Linked DNA regions of Homo sapiens: region 2 is linked to region 1. The links come from fine-mapping of genetic effects on gene expression. A gene starts in region 1. The other region holds a variant in brackets. All regions are shown on one strand. Distances are between the middles of the regions.

Region 1 (5,373 bases):
ACTCATTCTAACTAGCATTTCCCAAAAGTGCATTTAATGGAATCCTTTTTTACATAATTACCATAAACATCCACACAGACCTAACTTTCTTTTAAACATACTTTTAGGAAAAATGGTTTTGATAAATTCATGTCTAACAAATTATAATAATAGATTAGATTATAATAGATTAACAATATTAATAACAATAGATATTATTATAGGACAGGGCACAAGAAATTATCCTTTAAACAAGATCCCTAAATCATTCTTTTGCAGCCTGCATTGAAATTGCACATTGCCTAGCGTCAAATTCAGAAAAATTTATTTAGGCAACTAAGACATTTTTATTTTTGGATTTCAGAATAAGTCTGCCACAGACACAAAGATTCCAAGAAGTGGCTCATAATGTCATCTAGCAGAAGACACACTTGGGGAAAAAGGTGGGGGAGGGGTATTATGTTTTGTTGCAAAATTGATTTTGTATGAGGTTTCTTACTCCCCAAATCTACCTTCAGAAAACGGTAGTATCTAATGATCTAATGCCACATCACTACCTCTCCTGTCCTTATCCTTGGTCTCCTGATGACCGCAGAAAGCAAGAGAGAGCCAGAGTGGAACGAGTGAGCTGTTAACTATAAATTACAAAAATGAGGACTCCTTTTTTCTCTGAAAACCAAGAAAGCGGTTACTCTGTCACAATCCAAAAAAAAAGGAAATTAATCAATCATCAGTATTTGTCCTGAAATTTTCCGCAGAGGTCTCTGGTGTGATTAAAAACGTGGGGGAAGGTCAGGCGCGGTGGCTCGCGCCTATAATCCCAGCACTTTGGGAGGCCGACACGGGAGGATTACCTGAGGTCAGACCAGCCTGGTCAACTAAAAATACAAAAATTAGCCGGGCGTGGTGGTGCGCGTCTGTAATCTCAGCTACTCGGAAGGCTGAGGCACCAGAATCGCTTGAACCCCGGAAGCAGAGGTTGCACCACTGTATTCCAGCCTGGGAGACAGAACAAGACTCTGTCTCAAACAAAACAAAACAAAACAAAACAAAACGTGGGGAAGAGGCCGGGTGCCATGGTTCACGCCTGTAATTCCAGCACTTTGGGAGGCTGAGGTGGGTGAATCACTTGAGGTCAGGAGTTTGAGACCAGCCTGGTGAAACCCTCTTCTACTAAAAATATAAAAATTAGCTGGGTGTGGTGGCACATGTCTGTAATCCCAGCTACTGGAGAGGCTGCGACAGAAGAATCGCTTGAAGCTGGGAGGCAGAGGTTGCAGTGAGCTGAGCTCACACCACTGCACTCCAGCCTGGGCAACAGAGCGAGACTCCGCCTCAAAACAAAAACAAAAACCGTGGAGAAAATGCTAAACTCGATTTCTTCTGAACCTATGCTAAGATGTCAAGGTACTGTGATTCTTCTAAAAGAATTTTAAAGGTTGTTATGTTTGGTGTCCTAAAAGTGTACATGGATTTTATATTATAACCTACATCAAGAAACTCATTCAGGCCAGGCGCCTTGGCTCATGCCTGTAATCTCAGCACTTTGGGAGGCCAAGAATTCCAGACTAGCCTGGGCAATATGGCGAAACCCCGTCTCTACAAAAAATACAAAAATTAGCCAGGCATGGTGGCTCTCCCTTCAGTCCCAACTACTCGAGAGGCTGGGGCAGGAGGATGCCTTAAGCCCAAGGAGGTAGAGGCTGCAGTGAGCTGTGATTGCACCACTCCACTCCACTCCAGCCTGGGAACAGAGTGAGACTCTCAAAGAAAAAAAAAAAAAAGCCTTATTCACAGATAATTTTTTTTAAAAATGGAAACTAAAATAGAATTTAAAACCCAAGCTGCTCAGTTTCTTGGAAGATGGATTTTTCCTACTTGGTAATATACTTTGTATATCTCGACTATTATTGTGCATGCAAGCACCTCTAAGAAGTACTTGTATCTGCAATGAATTCTTAAACCTCAGGGAGCCAAATAAAAAGACAAGGCCCGAGGAATTCTTTCAAAAATTAAAGTAACATTTCATATTTGCTTATTCTAACAGACAAAGAATAAAGAAGGAATCCGCTAAGTTGCAAGCTGAGGTGCAGACAAGTGCTGGTTCACAGTGACATCCTAGAAGGAATGCTCTGGATAAGAGCTTCAAGCTTCTGTGGTTTTCTGAGGAAAGTGAACGGAATCTAGACGTGTCCTATAGCTCAAAAAATCAGCGCTATGGACCACAGCGCCTAACAGAGTAAAATAATACACTGTGCAGTTTGGCCACTAACAGCAAGAGTGGGAAGGGGCGAAGAGGAACCTTGATTGCCCGACACCAGGGCCACCTGAAAAGTCATCTTGACACTTCAGTCTTTCCATTTTGAGATCGGAAGCTTTAAGGACCATTAAATCGCTGCCGCTGCCACACCAGGCCCGACGGAGCAGAAAGGCTGCGCTCACCTGCGGAAGCGACCGGGTGCACACCTGCCGGGTGGCGAGGCCCGCACCGTCACACCCCGCCCCGGCTTACCTGCCCTTCGGTGATTTTTAGCGTCAACTTCCATCCCTTCCCACCCATCTGGATCCAACCAAGCGCAAGGGCGGGGGAGGGAGAAGCTAGTGTCGCGAGGAAAAGCATCCCCGCAACCCACCGCAGGCTTTCTCTCCTTCCTCCCCATTCCACACAAGAGGCAGCCACACCGCCTCTCCTAACCCTCGTCTCCAATGCAAGGCCTGAAATACTTAGAAAAAATAATAACTGTTTTTAAGGAAAAGTAACATCCCCGCTCCCTTCCGCCCCTCACCTTCACGAAAGCAATCGGGGTTGTGGTACCTTCGATATCTAACAGGATCACGGTGACTTCGGCGGGGACCGAAAGCACGACCATTTCCCTACCGGATGCTACGGGACTCGGCCTGCTGTTGGGGAGGGCGGAGGGCGGCGCCGGCTGCGGCTGCGGCCCCCGGTACCGTCTTGGGCTTCCGGCGGCCCCGCGCGATCTCGGAGCCAGCGACCAAGTGCAGCCCGCCGCGCGTGGGGAGAGGACACTTCTGCACACCTGGAACTGGAAAAGGCGGCCGCCCAGGAGCCCTGAACTCGTGAGCAGGACGGGGCAGGAGCCCGAGACCACGTGGGCAGGAAAAGGGGCGGCCCTTGACGGGTTCGGCGGGGCGGGGAGGGTGAAGGCGCCAGCGCCGATTGGCCGCCGTCAGGCCTCGAACTGGATCCGTCAAAATGGGCCTCGCGTGGGCGGGAACAAAGAAGCGAACGCGGGAGCAGGGTGCGCGAGAGCGCGCCCTCCGCAGACAGGTTGAGCGAGCGGGAGAGGCCCGGGGCACGTGCAGAAAGGAGCCCCGCGAGTGGCGCGCCGGGGATGTGAGTGCCCCTTGCCCTCTACTGAATCCAGCCCCCTCCCCGCCCACCGCCTCCGCCTTTGCATAGATACAGTCATCTGGCCAGCCCCCGCCCCTCCTCCCGGCGTCAGCCCGCCAGAGGCCGCGCGGGGCCCGGGCTTCGGCCGATCAGCCCGGGAGGCCCCGCCGCGCCCCCTTGGCCCGCGCGCCCGTGGTCACAGTGGAAGAGGCGCCCGCGCTGCGCTGCCCGGAGGAGCCGTCGCGCGCCCGCTTCCTGTTCGGCTGGTTCCTGCCAGCTCGAGGACAAAACACGCGTGCGCGCGGCGGGCGAGCGCGCTCGCCGCCTCAGTCGCCAGCGCCGGGCGCAGTCCGCCTTTTTCCGGAGCAGACTGGCCGCGGTGCTAGTCGGTAGCAGCGGCCGCCGCAGCGGCTCCGCACTGGCGAACCGAGGGCAGAAAAAGGCGGGGTTGACGGCTTTTTGGTAGGAGTGGGCTGGACCGGACGCCAGAGACAAAGGCTCCCAAGGCAAGAGGGACTGTGGCCCTGCGTCGGCTCTGCTCGGGACTGCTGACCCCAGGAATTTACGCCCCTTCGTTTTTCTCTTCTGATTCTTCTCTTCTCCCAAGCCCGCGTCCCCTCACGCGTGGCCTCTCTCCTTGCCGGGAGGGCCGCGATGGAGGTCCCGCCCAGGCTTTCCCATGTGCCGCCGCCATTGTTCCCCTCCGCTCCCGCTACTTTAGCCTCCCGCAGCCTCTCCCATTGGCGGCCGCGGCCGCCGCGGCAGCTAGCCCCGCTCCTCCCTTCGCTCGCTCCCAGCTCCGCCCGGCAGGGGGCGCGCCGGGCCCAGCGCCACGTCACCGCCCAGCAGCCCTCCCGATTGGCGGGCGGGGCGGCTATAAAGGGAGGGCGCAGGCGGCGCCCGGATCTCTTCCGCCGCCATTTTAAATCCAGCTCCATACAACGCTCCGCCGCCGCTGCTGCCGCGACCCGGACTGCGCGCCAGCACCCCCCTGCCGACAGCTCCGTCACTATGGAGGATATGAACGAGTACAGCAATATAGAGGAATTCGCAGAGGGATCCAAGATCAACGCGAGCAAGAATCAGCAGGATGACGGGTACCGCACGCTTCTTCCCCCGCTCCCCCTCCCCCAGCGCGCCGCACGCGCCCTTCGTTCCTCGTGAGCCGCGCGCTGCCCCCATTCTTTCTCAGAGTCGATTCCCCGCGTGCCTTCTGGGCCCCACTAGATTGGAGGGAAGAGGAAAGTAAGAGATCGAGGGGGTGACTGGAGAGACCCGGGAAGAGTGGGGGAAGGGCGGAGGGGTTGGAGGAGGAGGGCGGCGGCGTCTGTGTCCCGAGCGCGCAGGCGCCGCGTGGGACCCGGGGGGGAGGGGCCGGCCTCCCAGCGCTGCACGCTGCAGCTGCCGCCGCCTCTTCATTGTGTCTCTGTTACCACTCGGCGCGGTTTTCCTGGGAAGAGTTTTAGAGGACTGAGTTGGGGCACAAGCAGGCGACTGGTACCCAGATTCACAAAACGTGTTATGATTGATGAGTTCTCTGGGTGGAACGTTGGCTTGACAGCTGAGAACGAAGATGGACCTAAGTAAGATAAGATGTGAGGGATTCATCTAGGAAGTTGTGCCTTCTACCTAAAGGAATCTGGGCAGAACCTTTACTGTATTTTATTGGTCTCTTTTGAGCTTTGCTTTATGTAGTGCGGACAGTGAGCTGTCCGCTGGTTTGAGTAACTTCGTTGGGATATTGGGATTTTTGTGTGACATAGATTAAATGTAAACATGAATTAAATTGCCTACACTTAGGGGGTAAATGTCCCTGTTTTTATTTCACGATTTAATTCCAGAACTGAAGGATCATTTGAGTTATTGTTAATTTTTTTTAAAAACACTTTTATTTCTAGTAAAATGTTTATTGGAGGCTTGAGCTGGGATACAAGCAAAAAAGATCTGACAGAGTACTTGTCTCGATTTGGGGAAGTTGTAGACTGCACAATTAAAACAGATCCAGTCACTGGGAGATCAAGAGGATTTGGATTTGTGCT
Region 2 (5,373 bases), 32 kb after region 1:
ATGCTTTGAATGATATCATATATTGGTTTGTTTTGCCAGCTTAACATTTATGAAGATAGTCTAAAATGTGTACCAAAAAAATTAGGTAGATATTTCTTGGTTTACTGTCTTCTAGACATCCATGCAAAAAACAAAAGTTGGTTGCTTTGGCTAAAAGTGATAATTAATAAAACAATAAAGGCTATACTCATAATAATTACAGAGAAATATGAATATGTATGCAAGATAATATAGTTTATTAAATAAATTCTGGATATATTTACATTATAATTTCAAGTATAAATACATTGATTTATTTAATATACTGATTGGATTAATTTTATCTTAAAGTTAAAAGCTTTAATTTTGTAACTTATTTACATAGCCATGTAATTATATATGTCTAAACACACACATATAAATGTATATTAAGATCAATTGAAGAATCATCTATAAATGGTTAAAAAATTTTAAGGTGAAATCAATGTTAGTAGATTTATTAAAAACAGATAAATTCTTGACTAAAAATTGTTGCATGGATGATATTCTAAAATAAAAAAAGTCAAATTAGAATTTGGATTTTCTTTTTGGAAAATGACTAAGTTAGTCTGTGACCAGATAACAGCTATCCTTTTGAAACACCAAAATACTCTATTAATTCTCTAGACTTCTTGGCATACTCTGGAATAATTTTGACCAAAAATTCCTCACTTTTCAGTTAAGTTCCTAGTAATAACTGTTCCCTACTGACGTGGTTTTTAAATACGTATAATAACTATAACTGTCTTTTGGAGTTTTTGTTTGTTTTGATAGGGTCTCGCTCTGTCACCCAGGCTGGAATGCAGTGGTACAGTCTCCACTCACTGCAGCCTTGACCTCCTAGGTTCAAGCCATCCTCCCACCTCAGCCTCTCCAGTAGCTGGAGCTACCAGCATGTGCCGCCATGCCCAGATAAATTTTATTTTTTTAATTTGAGACGGAGTCTCCCTTTGTTGACCAGGCACAAATTGTGCAGTGGCACAATTTGGGTTCACGGCAACCTCCACCTCCCGGATTTAAGTGATTCTCCTGCCTTGGCCCCCCAAGTAGCTGGGATTACACCACTGGGCGCACCACCACACCCGGCTAATTTTTGTATTTTTAGTAGAGACGGGGTTTCACCCTGTTGGCAGGCTGGTCTCCAGCTCCTGACCTCAAGTGACCCGCCCGCCTCAGCCTCCCAAAGTGCTGGGATTACCGGTGTGAGCCACCGTGCCCGGAGGTCTTGGATTTTAAAAATTATAATTTCTGTTCATACCTTATATCTTCTGACAATTCTTCTTCATTCTGCCTTTATATTAGGCCCTAAATTCAGAATAATAAAAATGTTAAGATGTTTTTTATCCTTCAAATATCTTTAGACTTCCTGAAATGACTGTTAGGTATCACAAATATTTGCTCATTCACTTTCTACTCAGGAAGAATAATTGAAATAATTGTTTGGCCTAGAGTGGTGGCTCATGCCTGTAATCCCAGCCACTTTGGGAGGCCAAGGCGGGCAGATCGCTTGAGCCCAGGAGTTTGAGGCCAACCTGGGCAACACAGTGAAACCCATCTCTGTGAAAAATACAAAATACAAAAAATTAGCCAGGTGTGGCAGTGCACGCTTGTGGTCCCAGCTACTTGGGAGGTTGAGGTTGGCAAATTGGTTGAGCCCAGGAGGCAGAGGTTGCAGTGAGCGGAGATCATGGGGAGATCATGGCACTGTACTCCAGCCTGGGCGACCCCAACTCAAAAAAAAAGAAAAAGAAAGAAAGAAATAATTAAGTGTGGGCATTTTTCAAACTTAAACAATGGTGAGAACTACTTTTTAGTAGCAATTAAAAAAAAAGGACAAAAGAAAAGGAAAAAACCCATATTTTATGAATTTTCTACAATGTGACATTTTTATTTTAAAAATAAGTAACTTAAAAATAGATATTACTCAGCCGGGCATGGTAGCTCATGCCTATAATCCCACACTTTGGGAGGCTGAGGCAGGCAGATCATGAGCTCAGGAGATTGACACCATCCTGGCTGACACAGTGAAACCCCGTCTCTACTAAAAAAATACAAAAAATTAGCTAAGCGTGGTGGCGGGCGCCTGTAGTCCCAGCTACTTGGGAGGCTGAGGCAGGAGAATGGCGTGAACCTGGGAGGCGGAGCTTGCAGTGAGCAGAGATCGCACCACTGCACTCCAGCCTGGGGGACAGAGCGAGGGTCCGTCTAAAAAAAAAAAAAAAAAAAGGTAAATAGAAATTTAGTTAAAAATAGAAAGTTAAAGAGCATATCAATCATATACATATTTAATGTATTTTAGTTTATCTAAATCTCTCTTGGTAAGCCAACAGCTGGAAGACATGCACTAAGAAAATGGGAAGCAGTTGGTAGAAATAATTTTTGGATATGTGGAGAAATAGCTGGGATTAAAAAAAAAGTGCTGTGGGAATCTGGGGTCATAAAGAGACTGTTGCAGAAGGGGGATGTTAGAAAGAACAAAAAACCGGGAATTTAATTTTTTTCACAGGAAAATGAAACAGAAAAAACTGCTTTGGATATAGCACAGAGCCAGTGAAGGATATACAATGGTACTTCTGAAACAAAGGGAAGAAAAGAATGCCCAGAAGTTTGTGTATAGGAGAACCTACCCAGCAGTTCTGCTGTGAGCATCAAGAGGGAAGGCTAGGTCTTTCTTCATGAAATGGAGAGCCTGGAGAATGCTGGGCTGGTAATGTCAGCAGATCAATTTACCTACTCAAAACTCATATTTCCACTTTCCTTTTGGGTTCACAAGGGTGATCTGCTAAGATGGCTAAAGTCTCTGGGGACTTTTTTTTTTTTTTTT[C/TC]TGAGACAGCGTCTTGGTTTGTTGCCCAGGCTGGAGTGCAGTGGCATGATCTCAGCTCACTACAACCTCTGCTTACCTGGTTCAAGCTATTCTCCCACCTCAAACTCCCAAGTAGCTGGGATTATAGGTGTCCACCACCATGCCCAGCTAATTTTTTTTTTTTTGAGATGGAGTCTAGCTCTGTTGCCCAGGCTGGAGTGCAGAGGCGCGATCTTGGCTCACTGGAACCTCTACCTCCCAGGTACAAGCGATTCTCCTGCCTCAGCCTCCCAAGTAGCTGGGATTACAGGTGCCCGCTACCACACCCAGCTAATTTTTGTATTTTTAGTAGAGACGGGGTTTCATTGTGTTGGTCAGGCTGGTCTCAAACTCCTGACCTTGTGATCTGCCTGCCTCTGCCTCCCAAAGTACTGGGATTACAAGTGTGAGCCACTGTGCCCAGCCTAATTTCTGTATTTTTAGTAGGGACAGGGTTTTCCCATGTTGGCTGGGCTGGTCTCGAACTCCTGAGCTCAAGTTATCTGCCTGCCTGGGCCTCCCAAAGTGCTGGGATTACAGATATGAGCTACCACGCCCGGCCTCTGGGGACTTATTAATTTACTATATTTTGTTCTAAAGGAGGACTTTTAATGTTAGCTAGTAGTACAGTATATTGTATAGAAAAAAGGATAGAGGCATGCATAACAACTATTAGCACAAATACATATGTGCATTTTTTCTCTTCTAGCACTGATGTGACTCCTGTCATTAGCAGTTGTGACACACATTGCTTAAAATCAACAGCTGATTCAACATTTGGAAATATAAACTTTATGAATAAAAATTATATAATCCAATTGAAGATTTCTATAAGCTCACCCAAGAAGTATAATACCTCAGCTAACTACATTCTCGTTTGGGATTTTATTCTTCCTTTTTGCTTACAAATATTCTTGAATTTATATTCCTAAAGGCAAAAAAAAAAAAAAAAAAAAAGGCACATACTAAAATGAGCAACTGCTTCTCTTCTTTCTTTCTTTCTTTATTTTTTTGTTTTTTGGAGGGTGTGGGGACAGTGTCTCGCTCTGTTGCCCAGGCTAGAGTGCAGTGGCGCGATCTCAGCTCACTGCGACCTCTGCCTCCTGGGTTCAAGCGATTCTCTTGCCTCAGCCTCTGAGTAGCTGGCACCACAGGCACATGACATCGCGCCCAGCTAATTTTTGTATTTTCTGATAGAGGCGGGGTTTTGCCGTGTTGGCCAGGCTAGTCTCGAACTCCTGACGTCAGGTAATCTGCCTGCCTTGGCCTCCCAAAGTGCTGGGATTACAGGCATGAACACTGCGCCCGGCCCCTTTATTTATTTATTTACTTATTTAAAGACGGAGTCTCGCTCTGTCGCCAGGCTGGAGTGCAGTGGCGTGATCTTGGCTCACTGCAACCTCTGCCTCCCGGGTTCAAGCAATTCTCCTGCCTCAGCCTCCTGAGTAGCTGGGACTACAGGCGCGCGCCATCACACTCAGCTAATTTTTTGTTGTTGTTGTTGTTGTTGTATTTTTAGTAGAGACAGGGTTTCATCATGTTGGCCAGGATGGTCTCAATCTCTTGACCTCATGATCCACCCGCCTCGCCCTCTCAAAGTGCTGGGATTACAGGCGTGAGTCACCGCACCCGGCCACATTCTTTATTTTTAACAGCTTTTTTGAGCTATAATTCACATTTCATGCAATTAATTTATTTAAAGAGTAAAATTGTATGGTTTTTAGTGTATTGACAAAGCTGTGTACCCATTACTGCAATGAATTTCAGAACATTTGTATAGCCCCAAAAAGAAATTCTTTACCTATTAGCAATTGCTCCTTATTTCTCTCTGACGTCCCAGCCCTAGGCAACCACTACTGTCTGTTCCGTCTTTATAGGTTTGCTTCCGGGCATTTAATATACATGGAATCATACAATATGTGGCCTTGTGTTACTGGCTTTTTCACTTAACGTGATGTTCCCCGCTTCATCCATGTTGGAGTACATATCAGTACTTTATTCCTTTTTATCACTGAATAATAGTCTATCCTATGGTGTGAAAAAAAAAGCATGAACACAGCAGGCTGGAGACTGCTATCCTTAGAAAAGCCTGCTTACGGCCGGCCGGGCGCGGTGGCTCACGCCTGTAATCCCAGCACTTTGAGAGGCCGAGGGGGCGGATCACAAGGTCAGGAGATCGAGACCATCCTGGCTAGCACGGTGAAACCCCGTCTCTACTAAAAATACAAAAAATTAGCCGGGTGTGGTGGCGGGCGCCTGAAGTCCCAGCTACTCGGGAGGCTGAGGCAGGAGAATGGCGTGAACCCGGGAGGCGGAGCTTGCAGTGAGCCGAGATCGCACCACTGCACTCAAGCCTGGGGGAGGGAGCGAGACTCCATCTCAAAAATAAATAAATAAATAAATAAGTAAATCAATCAATCAATAAATAAAAAGAGAAGCCTGCTTACCAGATTGGCCCTTGACTGGTGTCTGGGACCTTGAATTTGGGGAGATTTCCACCATTCCCTAACTGA

Which allele goes with the higher level. Positions count from the first base shown, and alleles are read on the strand shown. Sizes are in standard deviations (SD) of each study's normalised expression.
For the expression in monocytes of the gene that starts at base 3,217 in region 1, C is the high allele of the variant in region 2 and TC is the other (small effect, 0.19 SD a copy in Fairfax 2014).

The links. PIP is the estimated chance that this variant, and not a neighbour inherited with it, causes the effect.
Region 2: its variant is the best candidate, but not a certain one, in a credible set for the expression of HNRNPDL in monocytes (Fairfax 2014, PIP 0.86).

The regions. Positions count from the first base shown.
Region 1 is chr4:82,428,306-82,433,678 of GRCh38, reverse strand. HNRNPDL (heterogeneous nuclear ribonucleoprotein D like) reads left to right here and starts at 3,217. Exons shown (of 8, transcript NM_031372.4): 1 at 3,217-4,431; 2 at 5,233-5,373. The coding sequence starts at 3,989. ENOPH1 (enolase-phosphatase 1) reads right to left here and starts at 3,089. Exons shown (of 6, transcript NM_021204.5): 1 at 2,766-3,089. The coding sequence starts at 2,849. RefSeq lists enhancers at 2,499-2,598, 2,962-3,757, 3,909-3,998, 4,319-4,378, 3,758-4,553 and silencers at 2,839-3,158, 3,279-3,678, 4,049-4,288, 4,599-4,768.
Region 2 is chr4:82,395,868-82,401,240 of GRCh38, reverse strand. No RefSeq gene overlaps it. Among named protein-coding and RNA genes, the nearest start is that of HNRNPD-DT, 24 kb to the right of the region's middle. The variant C/TC (reference allele first, on the strand shown) is at 2,843.